Regions from separate parts of the Homo sapiens genome. Here regions 1, 2, 3 and 5 are each linked to region 4. Evidence: fine-mapped expression QTL. A gene starts in region 4. Each other region holds a variant in brackets. All regions are shown on one strand. Distances are between the middles of the regions. Region 1 overlaps LARP6 (La ribonucleoprotein 6, translational regulator). Region 2 overlaps UACA (uveal autoantigen with coiled-coil domains and ankyrin repeats). Region 3 overlaps LOC105370886 (a long non-coding RNA gene). Region 4 holds the start of UACA (uveal autoantigen with coiled-coil domains and ankyrin repeats). Region 5 overlaps THSD4 (thrombospondin type 1 domain containing 4).

What was found. PIP is the estimated chance that this variant, and not a neighbour inherited with it, causes the effect.
Region 1: its variant is fine-mapped to the expression of UACA in blood mononuclear cells (TOPMed, PIP above 0.99). The same link has a PIP of 0.9 or more in whole blood.
Region 2: its variant is fine-mapped to the expression of UACA in whole blood (TOPMed, PIP 0.95).
Region 3: its variant is fine-mapped to the expression of UACA in sun-exposed skin (GTEx, PIP 0.96).
Region 5: its variant is fine-mapped to the expression of UACA in putamen (GTEx, PIP above 0.99).

Annotation. Positions count from the first base shown.
Region 1 is chr15:70,843,081-70,848,185 of GRCh38, forward strand. The region is part of intron 1 of LARP6 (La ribonucleoprotein 6, translational regulator); the gene reads right to left. Among named protein-coding and RNA genes, the nearest start is that of LARP6, 8.5 kb to the right of the region's middle. The variant G/C (reference allele first, on the strand shown) is at 2,138.
Region 2 is chr15:70,669,838-70,674,942 of GRCh38, forward strand. It overlaps UACA (uveal autoantigen with coiled-coil domains and ankyrin repeats), which reads right to left. Exons shown (of 19, transcript NM_018003.4): 14 at 2,128-2,164; 15 at 1,202-1,254. Among named protein-coding and RNA genes, the nearest start is that of SALRNA2, 37 kb to the left of the region's middle. The variant G/A (reference allele first, on the strand shown) is at 2,626.
Region 3 is chr15:71,080,333-71,085,437 of GRCh38, forward strand. The region is part of intron 3 of LOC105370886 (a long non-coding RNA gene); the gene reads right to left. Among named protein-coding and RNA genes, the nearest start is that of THSD4, 33 kb to the right of the region's middle. The variant G/A (reference allele first, on the strand shown) is at 2,334.
Region 4 is chr15:70,761,532-70,766,636 of GRCh38, forward strand. It overlaps UACA (uveal autoantigen with coiled-coil domains and ankyrin repeats), which reads right to left and starts at 2,027. Exons shown (of 19, transcript NM_018003.4): 1 at 1,799-2,027. The coding sequence starts at 1,876. RefSeq lists a silencer at 1,792-2,201.
Region 5 is chr15:71,191,797-71,196,901 of GRCh38, forward strand. All of the region lies in intron 3 of THSD4 (thrombospondin type 1 domain containing 4), which reads left to right. Among named protein-coding and RNA genes, the nearest start is that of THSD4-AS1, 5.3 kb to the left of the region's middle. RefSeq lists a silencer at 3,534-3,828. The variant G/T (reference allele first, on the strand shown) is at 2,695.

The DNA.
Region 1 (5,105 bases), 82 kb after region 4:
CATTTATCTTCCCTTCCAACCCACCCCCCAACTACTTTCCCTATTCACTCTTCTATGTACTTAAGCTCAAGACCTAGGATGTGTCCTTTCACTCTCTCTTTTGCCCCCACATTTAGTCAATTATAAAGTGCTTATTTCATTTTGCAGGGTCTCCCATCTGTTCTCTCTTTGCCATTCCAACCATCCTCATTATTTCTCCCTTGGATACTTATTAATAGCTCATCAAAACATTTTTCCAAAAAATTAAAGTAATAGATAAACATAGCAAAAACTAGAATAAAATAGTAGGGAACTTATAAAGAAATCAACAATTCCCCATTCCACCTTTCCTCCCTAGAGGTAACTTCTCTTCAGCCATTTAATTCTTAGGAGAGTTATCTCATAGCTCTATAAAATATGCTTATAGCTCTATTTCTCACTTGCCAACCGTAGTCATTCTCTATTCATGTCTTACTACATAAAATGAGTATTTGGGGTCACTTATGACTTATGTCCCTAAATAACCCCTTCTTCAAATTTTCTTTTAGTTTTGGTTCTTCTATTAGCCTTTTATTTATGGTTTTGGTGTCTTTTTTTTTTTTTTTTTTTTTTTTGAGACGGAGTCTCACTCTGTCGCCCAGGCTGGAGTGCAGTGGCATGATCTTGGCTCACTGCAACCTCTGCCTCCTGGGTTTAAATGATTCTTCTGTCTCAGCCTCCTGAGTAGCTGGGATTACAGGCGCACGCTGCCACGCCCGGCTAATTTTTTGTATTTTAGTAGAGACAGGGTTTCACCGTGTTGCCCAGGCTGGCCTCAAACTCCTGAGCTCAGGCAATCTGCCCACCTCGGCCTCCCAAAGTGCTAGGATTACAGGCGTGAGCAACCGCGCCCGACCTTTTTTTCTTTTTTTTTTTTTAAGACAGTCTCACTCTGTCGCCCAGGCTGGAGTGCAGTGGTGCGATCTCGGCTCACTGCGACCTCTGCCTCCCAGGTTCAAGCAATTCTCCCACCTCAACCTCTCAAGTAGCTGGGACTACAGGCACACACCACCCCACCCAGCTAATTTTTGTATTTTTAGTAGAGACAGAGTTTCACCATGTTGGCCAGGCTGGTCTCAAACTCCTGACCTCATGTGATCTGCCTGCCTCAGCCTCCCAATGTGCTGGGATTACAGGTGTGAGCCACCATGCCCGGCCCTATTTGTGTTTTAAAATAATATACTTTAAGTGGTTTCTTATTCCATAAACATTAAAAAGTATTTTTCAATTCCTTGCTACGTGATATATTAATACACACTATTGTCCTACTCTCTCTTCCATCTCACCTATTTCCAACCTTCCATATTGCATCAGATGTACTTTTATTTCATTTTGCCATGGTTCATAATATTTCATTCCATTCGGTAACTAATATTCTATATTTTATCTATAGATACATACTGAAAGTTGAAAGTCAATCAGTTGTATTTTATTATTATGACTATGTAAACACTGTTCCCTACAGGGCTAAGTCATTTGCTAAGATTACATTTCTTGTCTCAAAGTCCTATTAGTTGACTGACCACCTGGATTGGTCCTCTATGTTTATTTTTTCTTTCATATGCTCTGTCTTTGTCTTTGTAATTTACACACTAAGAGATTTCTTTGACATTATATTCTAACCTTTCCTACAGAATTTTTAAATTTTAGTAGTTATTTATTTAGTTTCTAAGAACTGTTTTTGATCCTAGATAATTCCCTTCTAAGAGCTTCCTACTCTTGTTTTGTGGATGCAGTATCTTAAGTTCACTCTCAGGGTGCTAGTTGGAGTATACATTTTTGAGTCTTTTGTTTCAACATCATCACCTCTGTATCCTTTGGGGTCAGTTCTTCCATTTAACTTTCATGCCACTGATTTTCTTCAAGTGACTAAGAAATAATTCATTTTTTCTTTATTAAAGGGTTTAATAAACTTATTTTAGAATAGTTTTAGATTTACAGAAAAGTTGTGAAAATTGTACAGAGAGTTCCCATATATATACACCCAGGCTTGCTCTGTTATAAATATCTTGCATTAGTATGGTACATGTGTTACAACCAATGAACTAATTACAATTAGTTCATTAGTTCATTATATATTATTATTACCTAAAGTCCATATTTTATTCAGATTTCCTTA[G/C]TTTTGCCTATTGTCCCTTTTTCCGTTCCAGGATCCCATCCAGGACACCACAATACATTAACACATTAAGCTGTCATGTCTCCTGAGGCTCCTCTTGGCTGTGACAGTTTTCCTTGTTTTTGATGACCTTGACAGTGTTAAGAAGTACTGGTTAGGTATTTTGTGGAATGTCCCTCAACTGGGATTTTTCTGATGTTCTCTGTCATGATTAGACTGGGATTATGGGTTTTTGGCGGGAGGACCACAGAGGTAAATTTCCATTCTCAGCACATCCTATCAGGGTAGATGCTATCAACATGAATGATCACTGTGGATGCTAACCTTGATCACCTATCTGAGGTAGTGTTTGTCGGGTTTCTCCCCTGTAAAACCACTCCCTTTATCCCCACTCCCATACTGTGCTCTTTGGAAGAAGGCCACTGTACACAGCCCACACTTAGGGTGTGGGGAGTTATACTCCACAGCTATTCACTGTGAAGACAAAAGGTACATGCTGCTTTTTCTTAGTGGGTTGTATGGGTTCCCTCTGCAGTTGCACACTCCCACTGGTTTTCTTCCTAGATGGCTCTATGTACACAGGTGGGGCATGCCAAGTGGCAGGCTTCACATGAGGGTGAGCAGGCAGGGAATGATTAAGCTGGGGGCTCTACCCAAATGGCAAAGGCTTTACTCTGCGGCTGCCAGCTCTGCTTTCGCATCCCTAGATCTCCGTAGTGAGCTCATTCAATTCCTTTAGAAAATAATCTTGTCTCTTTTTTTTCCCCCTTAAAAATAAAATACCTGCTACTTTCCACTGGCAGACAGAAAGGCTAGGAAATTGTTCTAAAGGAAGAATTTAAATTACCTTTCAGATATTTGTAGCCCTTTTTACTCCTGCATCTTTGGTATATTTCCCAACCAGAGTCTTTCTAGGGTTCTGTCTTCCCACCTCCTGCCACCTCCCATGTTATATTTTAGGCTACAGCCTCCTCCACTCTGTGCCATATTACATGTTTTGAAGAACAGCTAGAGTATGTCACTGCTTTACTTGATGTCACTGATTTACTTTAATAATAATAATAAAAGCTTTTCTATTTCCTGTTAAATAAAATTCAAACTCTTCGGCTCCCAACCAGGCACGGTGGCTCACGCCTGTAATCCCAGCACTTTGGGAGGCCAAGGCCGGAGGGTCATTTGAGGCCAGGAGTTCGAGACTAGCTTGGGCAACGTAGCAAGACCCTGTCTCTACAAAAAATTTAAAAATTAGCCAGGTATGGCCGTGCACACCTGTAGTCTAGGCTATTTGGGAGGCTGAGGTGGGAGGATTGCTTGAGCCCAGGAGGTCGAGGCTACAGTAAGCCATGACTGCGCCACTGCACTCTAGCCTGAGTGACAGAGTGAGACCCTGTCTCAAAAAATAAATAAATACATACATACATACATACATACATACATAATAAAAAAAAAACCAACAAAGTCTTCAGCTCCTTATTCAGACTCATTTAGAATCTGGCTGTAACCAGCATCAAAACTTATTTCCATCGGTTTCCTTTCAGATCCTTTGCTCCAAACAAACAGAAAGACATAGTTATCTGTAAGTGTCACAAGCTTTCTGGACTCTGTGCCTTTGAGCTTGCTGTTCCTGTCTCTGAATGCCTTGCTCCTCTCTCTCGGGTCTAAATTCTAGTCACACATTAAGGTCCATCTTAAATGCAATTCTCCTAGGAAGAAAAAATCATTTCTACTTCTCCCAACACTTATCTATATTTGTATTATAGCTACTTGTGTGCACATTTTATTAGCAGCCCGAACACTGAGTTGAGAGTAGAACTCAAGCTGGTTTCTTTCATTATAGTATTACCCCAGAGCCTTGCATGTAATGGGAATTTAAAAAGTATCACCAATGTAAAGCAAATAGTTTTGAGGGCAAATCATACCTATCAGGATCCTTTGAGGGAGGAAGTATGGTTTCTGATGAATATGCTCTTAGTGGCCTTTCAAGGAGGCTTGAAAAAGTTTTACACTTAAGGTTTTGCTTTGTTTTGTTTTTTAACAAAACATTGTAAACTGGGAGTGATGAGGTCTTTTGTTATAGCTATAAACCTGTGAGAAATGGGTAGAAATAAAGGGGTACATTTTAAAACAGGTAATTGGGTTCCATGAATCAGTGCTGAATTTTTTTTTTTTTTTAAATATGTTGTCTCACTCTATCGCCTAGGCTGGAGTGCAGTGGCACTATCTTGGCTCACTGCAACCTCTGCCTCCTGGGTTCAAGCGATTCTCCCGCCTCAGCCTCCTGAGTAGCTGGGACTACAGGTGCGCACCACCATGCCTGGCTAATTTTTGTATTTTTTAGTAGAGACAGTGTTTCATCGTATTGGCCAGGCTAGTCTCAAACTCCTAACTTTGTGATCTGCCCACCTTGGCCTCCCAAAGTGCTGGGATTACAGGTGTGTCATATTTGTAAATGATTTAGAGAAACAAAAGGATTTGTAGCATAAAACATCCAAGGCTACTTTTTTCATAAAATATCGAATCTGGTTACACTGATTGCGCAGTTAATCGAATGATACCCTATAGGAGGAGAATATCCAAACTAAGATGGTGGAATAATGAGACCCTCACTACAGCTTTCAATCCAGGAATGATTTTTCAGACTCATTGTCTATCATTGCAGATGGTGGAATATGGTATTTTGACCACCAAGACCAAGAAAATGGTGGACACCAATAAGGAAGGTACCAAACACAAAAACATCATTTATGAAAAACACTAGGGTCCAGGTCCTGTCTGTGTGAGATTTCTTTTGACTCACCTCTAGAACAAGATAATGAATGTGAAATGGTTCAAAAAGGGCAAATTGATAATGCAATATAAAAACACCAGGGCAGATTCAAAAGATAAGGATTTTTCACTGAGACAGATTGAAAACATATACAGGTATGTTCTCAACTTTGTTAAAGGCATCACCCTTTTACAAACCATATTT
Region 2 (5,105 bases), 92 kb before region 4:
AATGTGCTTAGAACTTTAAATTCTGAAGAAAACCATCATATCCTTGAATAAAAACAAGTACTGCGATTTTAAATTTGCAGATAATTTCATAGAATTATAGATTTAACTAATAAGATTTTTGACTTCTGCGTACCTTCACTGTTAATCCAACAGAATATTCTCTGAATTATAAAAATACCACGAAAAGAAACCCAGCTAGTTATCAGAGTTGTCAAGAGAATGATTGGTCACAGCCAGCACCAGGGAAAGAGAGTCTCCCAATAGACAGAAAACACCTGGAGCTGGTGACAGCGGCTTCCTGATAAGATCTCCGGAGCTGGGTGAGCAGGCTCAAGCATGCGCACTAAGAGGCAAAATGGTGGATGTATGACCTTCTTCAGGGAGCATTTGACTGGTAAAGGAAAATAGCCCCTAGAGAGCAGGTGCACAACCTTAGTAAAGGCACTACACATGTGGCCCCTCCTAAGTGCTGACAGGCCACTATGCATGCAGATAGCCTGCCCCCAAGAGAAGAATCAAGGGAGGAGAAATGCAAACCCCAAAACCAAGCCAGTGCATAAAAATCCCAAGCCAAGGGCTGAACAGGGTACTGGGATCTCTCAAGCCGCCCACTTGGCCTTCTTCCAAGTGTACTTTGCTTCCTTTCGTTCCTGCTCTAACACTTTTTAATAAACTCACTCCTGCCCTAAAACTTCCCTTGGTCTCTCCCTCTGCCTTAAACCTACTTCTGCCCCTCAGCCGAATCCTTTCCTCTGAAGAGGCAAGGATAGAGCTTGCTGCAGACCCCTACAGATTTACTGTTAGTTAAATCTGAACTGCCTTTCCCCTGGATCAAGAGGAAAAAAAAAAACCAAAAAATTATATTTTGGATTATTCATATCTGTCTTCCCCTTTATATGGGCAAATATGAAGAGTTAACTAATCACTGTTAATGAACAGAAACTTAGCATCAAATGCAATGAAACTATAATTCAAATCTCTTATTATAACCACTATCATCAAAAACACTCTAGAGGGCACCAGAAACAGCAATATCTGTTTTTATTAAACTCAAGAAAGCAGGACCAACTTGTCTTTGATAATGAAAACCTCACTCTATGTATATATACTTAATGTACAATGCCGCTTTCTCCTCTCTTTATAAAGGCACAAAAATTTTCTTTAAATGTTTTTTAAAATTAAAAAAAAAAACAGTTATTACCTGTGAGTCTGCCATATACATCTGACCTTGTTTAAGAAGCATATCTTCTTTTCCTAAATAAATGCAAATGAATGACATTTTAACTTCAATATCCATACTAAAGTAGGCTAAACATTAATTTGATGTTATTTCCTTTATTATTCAAATAAAAGAGAAGCAAGAGGTACAACACAAAAGTATCCTCATTCTAAAATACCCATTTTCCCCTTATTATTTCTATAAACAGAAGTACCTACAATCTACTGAACAACAGATACTAGGTTGGTTTTTTTTTTTCTTATTTTTTTCTATGCTCTCTCTCAGCAGAATCACTAAAACTTCAGAAATATTGAGGACTCTTAAACTAGGCTACATGATAATAAAACATATATCTTATAATCAATCAAAACAAAAATGATGATTTAAATTTATAGCATAAATATTACTGTTGTAGGAGAGAATAGTTTAATAGTCACTAGGAAACAAAAACAGATTTTCTAGAGAAACTGTTTAACATTGCAGAATAAAAAAGATTATGTAGGGTCTAAAAATAATTCATAAATGTAATTTTAAAATGCCTACTTGCATTAAGACCGATTTCTCCAAATTAGAAAACTATGTTTATGTTCTTTCCATAAAAAAATGAACCCTAAATATCACAAGACAAATGTCTATGTCTACTAATCAACAAGGCAAATTTGGTAATTCATACAATATACAATTTTAAAATACAGGTAGCTAAGGAGAATCAGAGCTTCAGTAATTATCAGAATATGTTAGAAGTTACAATAGTCATCTTAACGTCTTCCTAGTTCCATGTGCTGATGAAGTTTAGCAGCAGGAATATCTTGTACAGTTATTCCTGTATAGTTAAACAAGTAAGAATAAACATTCTTCTTTACTTGAACTAGGTGAACTGTAATGATAATCCATACTTTTATACTTACGGTTACTGAAATGACTTCCTGATCCTAAATGATCACTCTGAAATCAGAAGCATAAAATATTTTAGGGTGAATGCTGCCTCATTTTGTTAAATTCTGTATCTATTTTAGCTCTAAATCATGCAGTCATTAAAACTACATTTTTGACATTCTTGTTTCTCCAGAGCATTATTCTACTCAAACCCACAAAAAGAAACAACACTAGCAACACTTAGAGAGATCAGCTGGGAATAAAGTACTTCACTAAGCATTTTAATAAAAGCAGCCAAGTGTTTTAAGAAAAAACTTTATTGCTCAAAAGAAAAAAAAAAGTGAGCCCTAAATGAACTGAAACAACTTTCAAAGACTACTGTTTGCTACTGCTTTACCTCAAAAGGAAGGAAGTGGCCACATTCATGTCAATAACTCATTTTACTTTACCACTGTAGGAAGCAGAAACCCTACCTCATTGACTATGAAATATCAACATAACCACTTCTTCCAGAGTTTATAAAATACCAA[G/A]TACTTTGAAAGTAAAAAGAGAGAGAGAGCAGGAAATGAAACTGAGGCAGAGACCTACACATAGTAATAAATCCATCAATCCATTAGTTAGGAAATAATAGAGAACTCTAGCTACAGTGAATCAAAATATACTGGGTTGTTCCTTTTCCCAAGTAAGCCAAATACAAAGAATCTAATATATAAATTAAAATACTACACTTCAAGGGTAAGAATAGGCCAGGCACAGTGGCTCACACCTGTAATCCCAGCACTTTGGAAGGCTGAGACAGGCAGATCACTTGAGCCCAGGAGTTCAAGACCAGCCTAGGCAACGTGGTGAGACCTCGTCCTTACAAAAAAATACAAGAACGAGCTGGGTGCGGTGGCTCATGCCTGTAATCCCAGCACTTCGGGAGGCTGAGGCAGGTGGATTGCCTGAGGTCAGGAGTTCAAGACCAGCTTGGCCAACATAGTGAAACCCCGTCTCTACTAAAAATACAAAAAATTAGCTGGGTGTGGTGGCGGGCACCTGTAATCCCAGCTAGTAGGGAGGCTGAGCCAGGAGAACTGCTTGAACCTGGGAGGCGGAGGTTGCAGTGAGCCGAGATCGTGCCATTGCACTCCAGCCTGGGCAACAAGAGTGAAACTTCGTCTCAAAAATAAATAAATAAATAACAACAAACACACACAAAAACATTAGCTGGGCAGGGTAACCCAAGGTACTCAGGAGGCTGAGGTGGGAGGATCACCTGAGCCCGGGGAGGTCAAGGCTACAGTGAGTGGTGATTGCACCACTGCACTCCAGCCTGGGTGACAGAGTGAGATCCTGTCTCAAAAACAAAACAAAACAAAACAAAAAACCCCAGAGTGAAATGAAGAGTAAGGACAGGCAGATGTAGTTCATATTTGTATATTTAGGTGTATCAGTCCTAAAAGCTACATACCAAACTCTGAAGTAGTTGACCATGATAAAACAGTCCACAATTCCATGACTAAATTAATGCCACCTCCATTAATCATTAGTGCCCCCACAGTATGAAAAAATACCTATAAGCTTAGTTAAGCTCTTTGTTCTATGGAATATTTAATACTAAAGTTTACAATAACTACTAAATGGCCTCATACATGTATTAGGGGGTGCTATGCACATAAGGAGTTCAAAAAACTTAATTTGGTCTTATTATCTCTATTACTCAAATGAAAACAAATATAAAAGTTGTAACATAAAATCAGTCTCATTCTAAAATATCCATTTTCCCCATATTTTTATACATACAAGGGAAATAGCTACATGTTAAGTTATTATACATAACTCGTAACAGTAATTCCTTTGACAGTTAAGCTTTTTTAAGCATGTGAGATAATACAGCAGTAGATATTCAATGTTTGTAAATGATGAATTCTTAGTAGTTTGTTGGTTGGTTGGTTGGTTGGTTTTGAGACAGGGTCTCACTCTGTTACTCAAGCTGGAGTGCAGAGGCATGATCTCGGCTCATTGCAGCCTCCACCTCCTGGGTTCAAGTGATTCACCTTCCTCAGCCACCCAAGTAGCTGGGATTATAGGCATGCACCACCTCGCCCAGCTAATTTTTATGTTTTTGGTAGAGACGGGATTTCACCATGTTGCCCAGGCTGGTCTCGAACAACTGAGCTCAAGCGATCCAATTGCCTCGGCCTTCCAAAGTGTTGGGATTACAGGCTGAGACACCACACCCAGGCAAATTCTTAGTAGTTTTTAATGGTTGCTGTTATAAATACTGGGTCACATATAAAGTGGGACCTGTAATTTTCTGTTTGAAAGTAAAAAATCATATCTAGCATAAAATTTCATCACAATGAATACGTAGTGACTGAGGAAAATGTCCCCATCATACTGAATGGGAACAGTTACAAAACAGGATGTACTATATGATCCCACCTGTTGAATGAGTATATAACACACAAATTATGTACAAATGTCTGAAAGGATTTCAGTCAGGTGCTAGCAGAGTTAAGATTATAGGTGTCTTTTGCATCTGCTTTCAGTTTAAATATACTTTCTTATTTTTCTAAAGTAAATAAGTATTTTTATAAGAAAAATAAGTTACTTTTATGACTATTGTAAGTTATAGACTTGACATTTTAGACAAATTGTTTGTCTAAAGCTACAGAAAAACATCTTTTTTTTTCTTCCCCTTGAAACAGAGTCTCACTGTCACCCAGGCTGGAGTGCAGTGGCGTGATCTCACTCATTGCAACCTCCACCTCCCAGATTCAAGCAATTCTCCTGCTTCAGCCTCCTGAGTAGCTGGTATTACAGGCATGTGCCACCACGCCCTGCTAATTTTTGTATTTTTCGTAAAGACGGAGTTTTGCCATGTTGGCCAGGCTGGTTTCAAACTCCTGACCTTAAGTGATCCACCCACCTTGGCCTCCCAAAAGTGCGGGGATTACAGGCGTGAGACACTGCGCCTGGCCTATACCTTACACTTAAGACATGCGAAAGTCTAGCTCCTAGAAGA
Region 3 (5,105 bases), 320 kb after region 4:
AGCCTTTATTCCACACCTACCATGTGCCAAATAATTGTATTCAGCACCAGTTCACTCGGATGAATAGGGCATGGTCCCTGCCCACCAGGCTCACAGCCTGGGTTGAAGAGGTAGATGACTAAACAGGCGCATGCAATTCAACATAGTACGTGCCTCTTTGGAGTAAGCACGGATGTGGTGGGAGCACAGTAGAGGGGCAGCGAAGCCCACCTCGGGGAGGAGGTACAGTGGGGTTTTGAAAGGAGGGCCTCCCTTAAGGCTGCTGAAAGATGTGGTGTTATTTTTTATTTTTTACTTTTTTGTAAGAGACAGGATCTCATTGTATTGCCCAGGCTGGAGTGCAGTGACTATTCACAGGCATGATCACGGCTCACTGCAGCCTCAAACTCCTGGCCTCAAGTGATCCTCTTGCCTCAGCCCCACAAGTGGCTGGGACTCTGGCAAGTGTAGTGCTATTTAGTGGGTAAAGAGGGGGATAGGAAAGAGTCAAAGGGTATTCTAAGTTCAGGGGCAGCTTTCACAATGACTCAGAGACAAGGAAGAACATGTAGGGCTTGGAAGTCTGTAAGTGGTTCAGACAGCTCAGCTGATGAACTAACCCCACACACATCATGGTGGGCGTCACTGAAGCATTTACTGGGCAGCTCCTGTGAAGAAATCAGCTTGCTTGAGCTAAACATGTGAAATGAGTTCATTTGGCTTGACCATATTTAACTCCATGTGGCTGGGTTAAATGAAATGTTTCATCCTTTGGAAGGAATGCAAAGTTTTTGGGGTTTTGTTTGTTTTTGAGAAGGGTTTTGCTCTGTCGTCAGGCTAGAGTACAGTGGAGTAATCATAGCTAAGTGCAGCCTCCAACTTCTGGCTCAAGCCATACTCCTGCCTCAGCCTCCTGAGTAGCTGGGACTACAGGTATGTGCCACCATAACCACCTAATTTTTTTAAATTATTTTTTGTAGAGACGAAGTCTTGCTTTGTTGCCCATGCTGGTCTCAAATTCCTGGGCTCAAGTGATCCTTCTACTTAGGGATCCCAAAGAGCTGGGATCACAGGCGTGAGCCACCGCACCTGACCACACAAAGAGTTTTGAACCAGGAAGGAACCTGGAGAAATTATGCAGCAGTGGACAAGGTGGGTGGCCTACTGAAAAGACTGAAGAGACCCTCAAGAGAATCTGGTAGCCATCAGAGTCAGAGACATTTAGAATGGCACAAACACAGCAGGAAGGGAAGCAGTGATTCTATCAGGCACCAGGAGAAATATGATACACAGGTTACCCCATGTCATTCTCACAATAACCTAATGGAAGTTGGCATTATTAAACCCACTTTACAGATGAGGCACCAGAGGTTTGGAGTTTGTTGAAGCCACTTGCTCTGAAGCATTTTGAAAACTTTGTCCTGGTTCTTGTGACTTGAGCAGAGACTGAGCTGCCTCATCACACCACCGGGTTCCTCAGGAGGAAGATCCGTGGCAGAGGAGATGGCATCTGGTTAGAGGCTAGTGGCACAGGAGGAGCATGGGCCAGAACAGCTCCCATGAGCTGGAAGATGTGACAAGTACTAGTATCAATATCAAGAGCAGGGAGGTTGGGAGTGGTTGTGGATTTTAGCAGATACATCCACTCCTTCATTCATTCTATTTATTTAATAAAAGGTTCTGCTGGAGACTCATCAGCAAAAACAAACAAGCAAACAAAAAAGAGACAAGTATTTGTACCCTCATGGAACTTACATTCTAGTGAAGGAGGGGAGCAGGAAATAAGCAAGACAGTCAATTTCCTCTATAATAGGTTAGATGGGGAAAAGTAGCAAGGTGAGAAATAAAGGAAGGAAGGGAATTTTTTTTTTAATTTCAAGATGGTTGCAGTTTTAGATGGAGCGACCAAGAAAGTGGCATTCAAGTAAAGACCTGAAGCAAGTGAGGGAGTGAGCTGTGAAGACATCTGGTTGGGAGAGTATTTTTGGAGGAGAGAATCACATGTCCCAGGGCCTGGAGATGAGAGAACTAGCATGGAGCCCATGTGGCTGTAGCGGAGCTTAACAGGGCTCTCTAGGAAGAGAAGAGGCCAGAGTTAACACAGAGTTAACACAGGGCTAGACCACTTGAGGCCTTGAAGGCCATCGTAAGGACTTGGGGTTCCCTTCTAGGTAAGACTGGAAGTCTTTTGAAGGCTTTGAGCAGAGATTGCCCTCTGACTTTCATGTTAACAATATGGGTCTGATGACTGTGTTGAGAATCCATGGTCCAAGGGGGCAAGGGCAGAGCAGGAAGGTGAAGCAGGAAGCCCGTGGAATAAGCCAGGTGAGAGATGACGAGGGTTTGGACCAGGC[G/A]GGAACAGGGGAGGGGGTGAGAAATGGTCAGGTCCCGATGTATTTGGAGGGTGGAGCAGCAGGATCTGCTGACAGATTGGATGTGTGGTGTGAGAGAGAGAAGTCAAGGATGACTTCAAGGTTTTGGCCTGAGGAACTGGAAATGCCTTTCACTGAGGGGGAAATAAAGAAATAAGCAGGTGTGGGAGGAAAATGAGGACCTCAGGTTTTATTCTGTTAAGCTTGAGGCAGAAATGTAGGAGGAGCATGAAGAAAGGACAGTTCCACAGAGGCCAACGGCAGGAGGAATGGATCAGATGCCACGGAAGGGTCAGGGAGACGTGCGTGGAGGGAAGGTCATTGGACTTGGCAGGCAAAATGGTCATGAGCTCACAGAAGAGGCACATGGTGTGCTTTGTGAATTTCTCCCTAGTCCTACACTCTCCTTCATTAAGCACAGGATTCTTTCGGCCAGTTTCTTCTTTCTATTCCCCTCCCCAGCTCTTTTTAGACCAGGGCTGGCCTGTACCCATCCACTCCTCTAATGCTGGCTTCAAAGCCTGTTTAATTTAATGGTCACTCCAGGGATCTCTTGGAAACCGATGGGAGGGTACCCTGTCCCTCGTATGGTATTTTTATGTTCATTTTTATTGGGCATTTATTTTTCCTGCTAAAAATATCTCATGCCTTTCTGGGGGCAGGGGAGGGGGGAAGTGGAGCGGAAAAATTATTTCAGCATCTCGCTTACAAATCTGCTTGGTGGAGCTGGAGTCTGTGGGTTGAGCACTGGTTTTCCATGCCCATTTCTGGATGTGCTCACTAAGATATTCCAGCCCAGGCCCTTCCTGTTTTAGTGAAAGGAAAGCAGTGAGGTCCCACCCACTCGTCTTAGAAGCTCCCTCCGGATGGCCTGGCCAGTTTCCATTCCAGTAGATGGCACGAAACTGAGTTCATGAAGTACAGAAAGTCTGAACATCTGTTTCTATGGGTCTACATGATGTCATTTGTCCTGAAACACCCCCAGCCCCTCACACACAGACAGTCCAGATCCTACACTTGGAAAAAAAAAACAAACAGAAGGGGAATTCCTACTGAGGTAATGATCTGAGTGTGGAGGGGCTCCCAATTTGGCCTTTATGAATGGACTGATTGAGCTAGGTAGACAGAAAGGGGTAATCTCCCCCTCGCCGCTTCTCTAACGCCGTCCTTTGAAAAAAGAAAATAAACTGGGCAAAGTCATCACTGTGTGAAATGGGGCTGAGGATTAGGATTTCCACAGGTCCAAGAGCAATCAAGTCATTACCATTGAGTAGATTCGAGGTTGACTTCAGGGTGGTTCAATTTGTATATCACAGAATATTTGAACAACTGTCTAAAGAAAAGGTCACTGTGCCCCAGCCTGAGCTGGGTTGACAATTTGCTTCTGAAGGGCAAAAGTAAGACAATAATGTCTCAACTGTAGAAGGAGGTGGGGGAGCAAGGACAGAAGATGGAGCAGAGTAGAGATGCCTTTAAATAACTCAGAGGGAAGGGCTCTTTTCTGAGCTTCACTGTGCTCAGCCTCCAGGGGAGTCCTCTGAAGCACTTCTTCAGAGCTGTGACCTCCTCTGGGTCTGGGAACCAGGGGTGAGGCCATGCTGATCAATTCTGGCTTGGGGAAAGGTGAGAAAGAGACAGTTTGTGAATAACATTTAGCACCCCAAATCAGGTGGATGGCTTGAAAGCTCGAACTAAGGATACAAGGAAGTGGTAGAAAGGAGGGGTGGGATTGAGGTGGGTTTTGCCAACTTGGAACACTAGAATATTTATTTATTTATTTATTTATTTATTTATTTATTTATTTATTTATTTATTTTTAGACACAGGGTCTTGCTCTGTCACCCAGGCTGGAGTTTAGTGGTGCAATCATAGCTCACTGCAGCCTCGAACTCCAAGGCTTAAGTGATCCTCCAGCCTCAGCCTCCTGAGTAACTAGGAATACAGGCATGCACCACCACACTTGGCTAATTGGAGCACTAGAATCTTGTTGGCAGTAGCACATGGGCTCCTCTTGGTGGAAAAAAAAATATATCCACATCAATATTTGGAGGAAGGCTTTGTCTTGGGACTTTAAGAAGATAGCAAAGGATTTGTTCATGCTTGAACCTATGCTTGTGAGTGAGAACTTTATAGTGTTACTATATGGATAACATGAGTTTAATTGTATACACCTGTGCAGGAAACAGTCACCATGGCTGCCTGAGACTGCTCTCCTTAGAAAGGTCTGCTTGGAAAGTTGGCCCCTGGTGGGCATCTGGGAGCTTGGCCAGTGAATAATTCCCCACATTGATAGAAAACTTCTATCAGTGATAAGCGTGGCTCATTGGACTTACACCATTTGTACAAACAAAATGGTTTGTGCTGAATGCCTGCCTTCCTTCTGAGAGCCTGGAGTTTTGTTACATGCTAGGCAGCAGGTGCCTACATGACAAAACCCCAGTATAAAATCTTAAGCACTGAGTCTCTAATGAGCTGTCCTGACAGACAATACTTCACATGTGTAGTTAGAATTTGTTGCTAGAGGAACTAAGTGTGTCCTGTGTGAATTTACTAGGAGCAGACTCTTGAGAGCTTGCACCTGGCTTTCTCTGGACTTCTCCCCATGTGCCTGTTCCCTTTGCTCATGAAACAATTGCTTTGTATCCTTTTGCTGTAATCAATCTTAGCTGTGAGCATGGCTATATGTGGAATCCTGTGAGTCCTCCTAGCAAATCACTGAGCCTGGTGGTGGTCTTGGGGACCCTTGATACAACT
Region 4 (5,105 bases):
GCTTGGTTTGGTTTTATTCATCACTACAGTTTTATTTTAAAATTTTACAGAATTCATTCTAAGTTTTATTCCTCATTACGCTTTTATTTTTAAATTGTACAGAACTTATTCTAATATTTAAACAGAAATGTTTGCTTTTTCTACATAAATAGGTTAATATCATGTTTATCTTTATTATGTCATTTTGAGAAAAATAGAACGCTCAATTGAGTGCTAAAGATTTAAGCTCAGAGATATGCACTTTATGTTCCAAATGTATAAAATGCAAACTATCATGCTGATAATACCTACTAAATACTCTGCATTTCTAGAAAACTGGATAAAATTAAGGCATATAAACCTCCAAGTGGGATTTACATCCTTAGTGCAAATCAAACACAACCAGGGAAAACAAAGCTAATAAATCTAGAAACTTGTATCTTCTATAAGGCTAAAAACACAACTTGCATTACAGAAGTAGAATCTTAACTGTAATGAACTCCAATATCACTAAATGACATTTCTGCCAGTTACTTTTTTTAAAAAAAAAAGTGAAACAAAGTAATCTCTGTTTTCCATGAGCTTATAAAACGACTTCATGCTTTATCAAAGAACATCAATTACGTCATCTGAATCTACTCTCTTTTTTTGAAATAGGAATTTAAGTCTAGGTAGTTCCTCCACAATTTCCTTTATGTCCAAGTAAAATAATCCTCGATATAGGTGGAGAGAAAGGCATAACTGAATTAACTCAAAAAAGCAGAAGCAGATTAATTAGTATTCTGATAAAAAGAATATAATCATTTGGTAAAATCTGCGTTGAATTGTAAAGGTTCATTTTAATTACCCCAACTAGGTAACTGTGCAGTTGGAGCATAACAACTCCTTTACGTTCGACTCTTCCAAGACTTTGTAAGTGGCACTTATTTTAATGATATAGAATTTTGATGATATCGCCATTCTTGTAACGTGACAAATTATCTAAATCACAACATCTGCGGTCAGGCTGTTTCTCAAGATTTCTGTTCTCCTGCCAACTAAAGAGGCCCCGACTACTCCTTGGCGCGCACACTGAGGCCGCGCTGCAGGTCAGCACCGAAAGAGCCCCGCACGGATCCCGCCCCACAGGTGCGATTTACACAACCCACATCACCACCACCCCTCCCAACTTCACCACCTCTAGGGTCACCACCCTGTGGGGTTTTGTCTTTACGACTAAGCCGATTCCCTCTGCCTCGCTGGGGAATCAAACTTCCCAGTGACAACGACAGCGGCCAGCACGGGACGTCCACCAGCCCGGCAGGGCTTGACGCTGTCTCAGACCCGGGGAAGGTCCGGAGTCCGGGCACGGTGGCGCGGGGTGCGCAGCCCTGCCCACCTGCCCTACCTGGTGCGAGCCCCGGCCCCGGGGACTGGGGAGCCAACACGGCCGAGCGGGCGTGGGCAGCAGGGCGAGCGCCGGGAGAGGAGAGCGACGAGGGGGGGTCAACGGAAAGAGCGGAGTAGGGGTGCCAATCGAGGAACTTTGGATTTAGGAGGAGGGGGCCAGAACCGCCCCACTGAGGTTTCTTCCAGAAGTTCGGAGGCTTGGGAGAAAGGGGTGGGGAAGAGACCCGTAGAGGCTCGGGTGCGGCGGCGGGGAGGATCCCCGGGGTCTCTGGGCTGACGGAGTCTCCGGCCTCAGGGAGGAGTCGCCAGGGCCGCCGAAGCCGAACTGGCAGAGGAAAAGCAGAGGAAGGCGGCGCGCGAACTCGCCAGCAAAGGAGGGCTGCGCTGCTCCCGGAGCGGAGCGCCTCGCAGCCCGGACCGCGGGACTCACCGCGCTGGCGGCGGCGGCGCCAGACGACGCGGGGCCGGGCACGTCCTGCCTCCTCAGGCGGGACTTGAGGCTCTTCATGGCTAACTCTTGCCTGGCCCCCGCGCGAACCTTAAAGGCTGCGGAGTGCCAGCGCGCAAGGAGTAGACGGCAGCGGCTGCAGCAGAGGCGGCGCGGGCTGTACCAGCCCCACCTGCCTGCCACCTGCGGGCCCCGGGCAGCAGACGTCGACAGGCCTGAGGCGGGGCTCCCCTCCCGTAGCCAATTGACCCGCTGCCCTGGCGGGGGCGTGGCAAACCGCGACCAATCGGAATGCGGGAATGGGGCGGGACTTCCCTTTTAAACTGAGTAACACCCTTCCTCTCCCAGCTGGAGGAAAAGTTTGGGAACTTTAGCCCGGGAAGGGGCGGAGGAGGTGGGCGGCCAGAGGCGTGGAGATGCGCGCAGGCCGGGCTCCAGGCCACCGGCGCCCGCCCACCCGGAGCTTAAGATCTAGAGAGAGCACGGGGTCCCGCCTTTGCCACCTCTCATCTTCCCGGACTCCCCTCCTCTTTCCACCCACGCGCTCTTTACCAAGTAAAGTTCCTTCCCTTCCGTCTGGTCTTAGAAATGACTCTTGGTTACCTGCACACAGAACAGCTTTCAGGAGCAACTTCTTTTCAGTCTCCTGTTTTACTACCAAATCCTGGTGCCTGGAAACCACCACACGCATCAAAAATTCCAGAAATAAACAGTCTCTAAGAAATAAGGTGCTGATTGTGCAGAAAAACGTACAGTTAAGAAAGACCTTGAAAGACGTTATAGTAAGTTACAGTACAAGTTACGTGCTCGTTTATTTGTTGAGTGAAGAATCCGCCGTATTGGAAGCAAAGGGACGGAATGGGGGCGGGGAGGGAGGAGAAGAGGTGCCATCAATTAAAAATGACTCCCACAGCCAGTGATTTAAGTTGTCAAAAAAAGTTACGCCCTTTTTTCTTCAAAAAGGTTTTTTGTTTTCTGTAGAAACACATTACATGTAAACGTATACGATGAAGTTAAATCATCTTACCTAGAAATCTGGGTTAGTAAAAATTATTTAAGAGGATGAAGAAACAGGAAGGTGCTCAGCACCCAATAATTTGCTGTTCGGGTGACATCTTCAAAAGTCTTCTTTGGAGTCATTTTTCCCCCCAGCAAAACGTTTATCGTAGCATGCATCCATTTGAAAAGACAAACGGTCCACATTTTCTGACTAACAAAGGACTCTTTTTTGTCTGAAAGGTCAGTTGCTCTCTTTAGAGTTTCTTTATAGTAACGCAAGGTTTTCTTCAAATACTGTAAGAAAGTTTTCAGAATTTCTTGGAGAGGCAGCATTCAAAGACTGTGTTAACCCTATACAACAAGTAAATAACAACTAACTACCCAAAAATATTATTAAATTTCATCTTGATTAGATCTTTGGAAGAAAATTTTCTTTGATTCCTCCCCCTTCCTCTAGATCTCCAGTCATTTAGTTCTTGTTGGCTCTTTAAAGTGTCTGTGTATGGTCAGTTACTCTGTTCTCACTGCCACTGCAGAGCCAAAATTACCTCATACCCGGACTATTATTACAGAAGCTTCCCAGCCAGTCTCCCAACCTTCAGTCTCTTAATTGTCCCATCACCAATAAATTATCAGCCATCATCAATAAGTCTTACAAAAATACTCCTCTTGCTCAAAAGCCTTCAGCAGCTAACGAATAAAATCTAATTCTTTGCATTTAAAGCTGTATAACGTGGACGCGACCCTGTTCTCTAGCCAACACCCCAAGCGAATTACTCTTCAGCCCATTCTCCAAACATGGGTCATGGCTTTCAACTTCCACATCTTTATGCATACTGATCCCTCCCCCAATAATCTTCTGTCTGTCTACATTCATCTCAGAAAATCCTACTCCCCCAAGAGTGATTGGTAGGGGATGTCGGGGGCTTCTGGAATACTGTACTATTCTCTGTGGGTGCTGGTTACATATCTAGTGTTTTCAGATTGTGAAAATTCAATGAGCCTGTACTGTATGCAATATATTCTCTTTTATGTGTGTGTTATGCTTTAACAAAAAGTTTGTTTTTAAGTGTATGTCCCTTCCAAGTGCCCTCCTCTCTATAGAACCTTCCCTGATCAAGTAACTGGAAGTGATCTCTCCATCCTCCAAATAGTTACAGCAATTATACCTCTCATATGATACTAACACATATGAGCTGAGCAAACCTTATTTCATTACTGGACTTCAATTTACTTAAAATTGGGGAATAACTGACATATATTTGAATTCCCTAGAATGCTTAGCATGTTATAGGTGTTTAATAAATATTTCTGAATGAATTGATGCATTCTTATTGACTACTATAGCAAATTATGGTTGTTTGTTCTATGTATTTATGTGACACAGGATTGGGATTCCCCCTATTGTGAACACAGATGGAATGATCTGAGGCTATGGTCCTGCTCAAATATTTGTGTCTCAATCAACTCCTTTCTCTGGGCTTAAGATAAGCACCCATTTACCATCTAGTCCTCTGACTGAATCTTAAATGTTAATTGCTTACAAGAGCACTGTCTCAGTAATTGGCTCTTGAGTTATTAATTGCAGTGTTATGTTGTACTGGTTGTCTCCTGTAACATCCAAGTTATCATAGTCCTGGTGACTGGCCTCCTTTTCTGTTGTTACTGGATAAAGCAAAGGAAACAGACAGAACCACAAGTATAGCTTGCATCAGGTTCCAAAAATGTTGGGCAAGTTATTTTTATGAACTGTCTGGATGATGTCCCCATGGTGTCTGTGTCCAGTGGCCTTTATGGATTTTTCCAGCCTAGAAACTTGATAGCTGATGTCTGCTTATTCCCATTTGAGAGCAGCTAAGTAAATAGCACTGGTCTGAATATTCAGTAAAGCTTTTTTACATTGATCTGGAAGCTGCCTATATGAAGTAAAGTCACTATTATTAGCATTCAACCAGACAGGTTGGGTTTTATTTTGTTAACTCTTATCACTATTATTTATTTTTATCTTCCCTTCAGAGCAAAGGGCACTTATCAAACCTAGATGACCTTTTGTTTGTTATCACACTGAGCCTATATAAAATATTTTTTTGTTTTACTTCTTTTTTTTTTCCAATATTTATTTATTTACAATATATACCAGGAAGGGTAATGCATTTTTTAAAATTACTTTACTAGATTATATATACACATGGTAATCTCAAATAATACAAATGGAGCAAGTTGATCTGCTTACCACCCCTATTTTGATCCCTGCTGTCAAGGAACTTGTGTTCTGGATTAGATAACAAAT
Region 5 (5,105 bases), 430 kb after region 4:
GGGTCTCTTCATTCTTTTCCTCCTCTATATTTTTGCCCAAATCCTTGGTGATATCTGATACCCCAAGGGCAGCACCACCTCCTATGCTTTGCCTTCTTCTTCTTCTTCTTTTTTTTTTTTTTTTGAGATGGAATCTCACTCTGTCACCTGGGCTGGAGTGTAGTGGCACGATCTCAGCTCACTGCAACCTCCGCCTCCCAGGTTGAAGCGATTCTCCTGTCTCAGCCTCCTGAGTACCTGGGATTACAGGTGCCCACCACTATGCCCAGCTAATTTTTTGTATTTTTAGTAGAGACGGGGTTTCACCATGTTGGACAGGCTAGTCTTGAACTCCTTACCTTGTGATTTGCCCACCTCAGCCTCCCAAAATACTGGGATTACAGGTGTGAGCCACCGCACCTGGCCTTCTTGACCTTTCCAAACTGTCCAAATTCCAAAAGCCTTTTTTTGATGTGTACTGTCTTGTGTTTTAAATTCCTTTGGTGGATTTATTTATTTATTTATTTATTGAGATGAAGCTCTGTCACCCAGGCTGGTGTGCAGTGGAGCCATCTCAGCTCACTGCAGCCTCCACCTCCCAGGTTCAAGTGATTCTCTTGCCTCAAGTACCCGAGTGGCTGGGATTACAGATGTGCGCCAACACGCCTGGATAATTTTTGTATTTTTAGTAGAGGCAGGGTTTCACCATGTTGGCCAGGCCAGTCTTGAACTCCTGGCCTCAAGTCTGCTTGCCTTGGCCTCCCAACGTGTTGGGATTACAGGTGTGAACCACCGCGCTTGGCTCCTTTGGTGAATTTTGAAGTGAACCTGTTCTCGACAGTTTTTTTCCAGGTATTTCAGCATTATTCTCCTAGACGGGTTATAAACTCTTTAGGATAGGAACTAGACTTATTTCAGTGTCCTGCAGTTCCTAGCATGCTTCCTTGCTAGAGCTGACCTTCCTAGAGTTGACTTATTTTGACTTCATACTCTTGTCCATGACAACTGTCTGTGTGCAGGACAATATGAATAAGGATGTGAGATGCTGCCCTACCCTCGGGGAGCTGTTCTGCTAAGGTGCCCGGATTCCCTAACAGCCCTCTGCACAGCTGTAATCTCTTGTTAGATTAGTTTTCCATCCTTCATGGGAATCGTTTTTCTTCCTACGTTTCTGTTTTTAAAGTTTGCATAAAATGGAGACTTGGCTGCACACCAGGGAGGTTTAGGAGAGAAATGAGCAGTGGGACCTCCCCAGCCAAACCTGGCTGCAAACCGCTGACTGCACAGGAATACGAATGACTTCTAGTGGGATGGGCGGGGATCCTGGGGGGATGCTCTTCATTCCTGCTTTTGATCAGGAGCTGGGCCAGCTTTGGAAATCTGAGTGTTGGCACAACTCTCAAATGGTCCTGCTGCTGTTATTGTCTGGGGTTTCTTACTGGGCGTCCACACTCAGAAAGGACCCCCTCTTTCCTGTAAGCTTGCTTCTCACTGACTGGCACAGCTTGGTGATTGGGGTGGTGGTAGAGACGTGGGCCATACGGAACTAGGAGCATAATTTTCACAAGCACTTAAACTTGAACAGAACAAGATTAGCAATATTAACACGCATTACACTGAGATATGACGCACAGGGAAATACCTCTAGGTACCCTTGGGATAACTGTAATGATACATGACTTAGGATTTCCAGATCCTCCTAGCTGCTTGGACTGTGGTTCCAGGCCCAGGTCACAGAACCTTGGTTACCTAAAGGAAGAATGGCCAGGGTTGGTGATATGGTTTGGCCCCCATCCATATCTCATCTTGAATTATAGCTCCCATAATTCCCACGTGCTGTGGGAGGGACCCGGTAGAGATCATTGAATCATGGGGGTGGTTCCCCCATACTGTTCTCACGGTAGTGAATAAGTCTCATGAGATCTGATGGTTTTTCTTTTCTTTTTTTTTGAGACGGAGTCTCGCTCTGTTGCCCAGGCAGGAGTGCAGTGGCGTGATCTCGGCTCTCTGCAAGCTCCGCCTCCCGGGTTCACACCATTCTCCTGCCTCAGCCTCCCTAGTCCCCCCTGGGACTACAGGCGCCCGCCGCCACGCCCAGCTAATTTTTTTGTATTTTTAGTAGAGACGGGGTTTCACCGTGTTAGCCAGGATGATCTCGATCTCCTGACCCCATGATCTGCCCGCCTCCGCCTCCCAAAGTGCTGGGATTACAGGCGTGAGCCACCGCGCCCGGCCTGAGATCTGATGGTTTTATAAGGGGCTTCCCCTTTCACTTGGCTCTCACTCTCTCTTGCCTGCTGCCATGTAAGATGTGCCTTTATCCTTCTGCCATGATTGTGAGGCCTTCCCAGCCACGTGGTACTGTGAGTCTGTTAAACCTCTTTTTCTTCATAAATTCCCAGTCTCGGGTATGTCTTTATCAGCAGCTTTAAAAAGGACTAATGCAGTTGGTGAGAATATGGAAGTACAGTCTAGCTATGTTCTGTTTCTTCTGTCCAATAGATGACAGAAACAGATGCCTCCATCTGTTTTCACAAACCGAGGTTGCTCTTCTTGCCACTGAGTAGAAGTTGCCTCCTCCAGCTTTGCCCCAGCCACCTGCTACTGAGAAGCCCAGCCCACTCAAGTCCTTGGTACTAAGGGCACTGCGGAGGGGTCTGGAGATAGTTTGCCATTTCCACACTCAGGGTCGGGGCATGGATTTGGCCCCTCTGG[G/T]CACCTGTGGGAGTGTAAGGGTATAATTTCTCTAGTGACCCCATCTCATGTGGCCTGTTGCCCTCCTGGGCCCGGTTCCTACGTGTCACTCATTCTCTTACCGAAGACAAGGCTTGACCTTGCATGCAGGTCCCATTTGGAGAGGCCCCTACAAATTCATTTAGATCCTACCAGTCCCATCTCCAAAGCAGCCCCTGGTTCATGATATCCCTTAAGTGCCTCAAAAACTATGCATAACTCTGGCTTCTGGACACCAGCTGTTCCTGGTCTTCAGTGCACATTCACTTCGGTGGCTCCCACCTGCACTGTTGGATTGTAAGACACAGCCCATGGCTCTTCTGCAGAGGAATGAAAACTACACATAGTTATACCTTGTGGGATGTTACATCTGGAATTCCAGTTGGAGAAGCTGCCCTGGGAAAGTCGGCGGCCACCAGAGAAGCAGGAACAGGAATGAAGCACAGCCTGGTGTTCCGAAGCCCAGCACGGGGCTGGGACCATGTCTGTCATAGTCCACCATGTGGAATGGGCCCTCCACACTCTCACTAGGGGCTGTTTTTCCAAATCAGTGAATATGTATCCACTACTTTTATGGGCAAGGCCTCGTGTTAATTCATTGTAGAGGGTAGAAAAGCAATAATGTTTGGGAAGGTACGTAACTGTACTCAGTCTACGGGAGACATTAAGAAATATTAAAATCTATAGAGATGTATATGCATCCCTATATGGGTTGTTTTCCATCCCAAAATATTAAAAGAGGATGAAGTCAAAATAAGTCAATCCTAGGAAGGGCAACTCTAGCATATATAAAAAGGCAATGGAGAAATGTTGAGTTTAGCAAAAGACAACCTCTCTGCTGGGATGCAGAGTGGTTTGGGATGGCAGAAATGGGAAAAGTCCAGTAGATGGAGCCAGGGAGGAAGGACATTTATCTTGTCACTAGAAGGGTGTAGTGGGAAGGTGAGAATGAATGAGGTTTTCTGACAATACCAAGTGGACCCCTCTAGGGGGCACAGAAGGAATTTGTGTTTGTAGATTGGAGGTAGGGGGTGGCCAGGGGAGGGCCAATAACAAGTCCAGTTAAAAAGGCAGGTTGAGTCCATACTAGAGAGACCTTAGATACCAGGTTAGGCGAGATAGACTTTATCCTTCTGGTACTGAGGATCCACTGAAGCCCTTCGAGCTAAGGGGGAGACACTGATAAAAGTGGTATTGTCGGAGGGTTGCTCTGGAGGTGTGTGTTGGGTGGATGGGGTTGGGGGAAAGACTGGTGGCAGGGAGACCACCTGGGAGTCATAATAATACTGGTGATAGCTACCAATTATTGAGCATTCCCTACATGCAGGACACTGTACAATGTGATATCTGTCATATTCAATAACCTGCAAGCTGAGTACACTTGACCAATGAGGAAACTAAGGCTTATTCATGTTGAATAACCACTGCATCCACCCATTTGTGTTGCTATAACAAAATGCCTGAGACTGGGTAGTTTATAAAGGACAGAAACTTATTTCTTACAGTTCTGGGGGCTGAAAAGTCCAAGTTCCAGGTGCTAGCATCAGGTGAGGGCCTTCTTGCTGCATCCTCACATAGTGGAAAGCAGAAGGGCAAAAGGGCCGACTGCTGAGTCCTCACAGGGCAGAAGAGCAAGCCAGCTGAAGGTGGCAGAAGCCTCTTTTATAAGGCCTTTAATCCCATTCATGAGGGAGGGATCTTCAAGACCTAATTACCTCCTAGAGGCCCCACTTCTTAATATTATCACATTGGCAGCACCTGAATTTTGAAGGAGACACATTGAAACCATAGCAGCCACCCAGAGTCCCAGAGCTTATAAATCACAGAACCAGCGTTTGAACTCAGGACTGCTTGCTTTCAAAGCCAGGCTATAGTAGGTAAAGTTTTCCACTAAGAACTGTACGATCCAAATTAGGGGAATTATAATCAAATTGAAAAAGAGAGATTATTGCAAGAATCCAGAAGACTCGATAACTGACCAGGTTGGAGGAGTGAAGGAGACAGAGAGAGAAAAAGAATGACTCCACTTTGTAGCTGTGGCTTTAGGGACAGTGGCAGTATTGCCACCAGACACCAAGTATCATAGGAGGAGGTGCTCTTGAGTGGGTCAGATGAGAAGATAGTGAGATGAGTTTCAGAAATGTGGCAATCAAGATGGTGGCAGAAATGCCAGGCAGCTATTGTCAGTCATATTCTCTGGCTTACATTCTAGACAAGCTGTGAGCATGGGCAAGCAGGAACACGGGAAAGAGAAAGCTTCTGGTGTTAGGGGGAGATTCTGGAGGAAGTAAAATGAGGAATAGCAGCAGAAGCAGCTGTCAGAGAGGCAGGGAGAGGAGGAAGATGGCATCATGGTATGCGTGGCAGAAACCAGTGGAGGAGTTGGTTCCAGG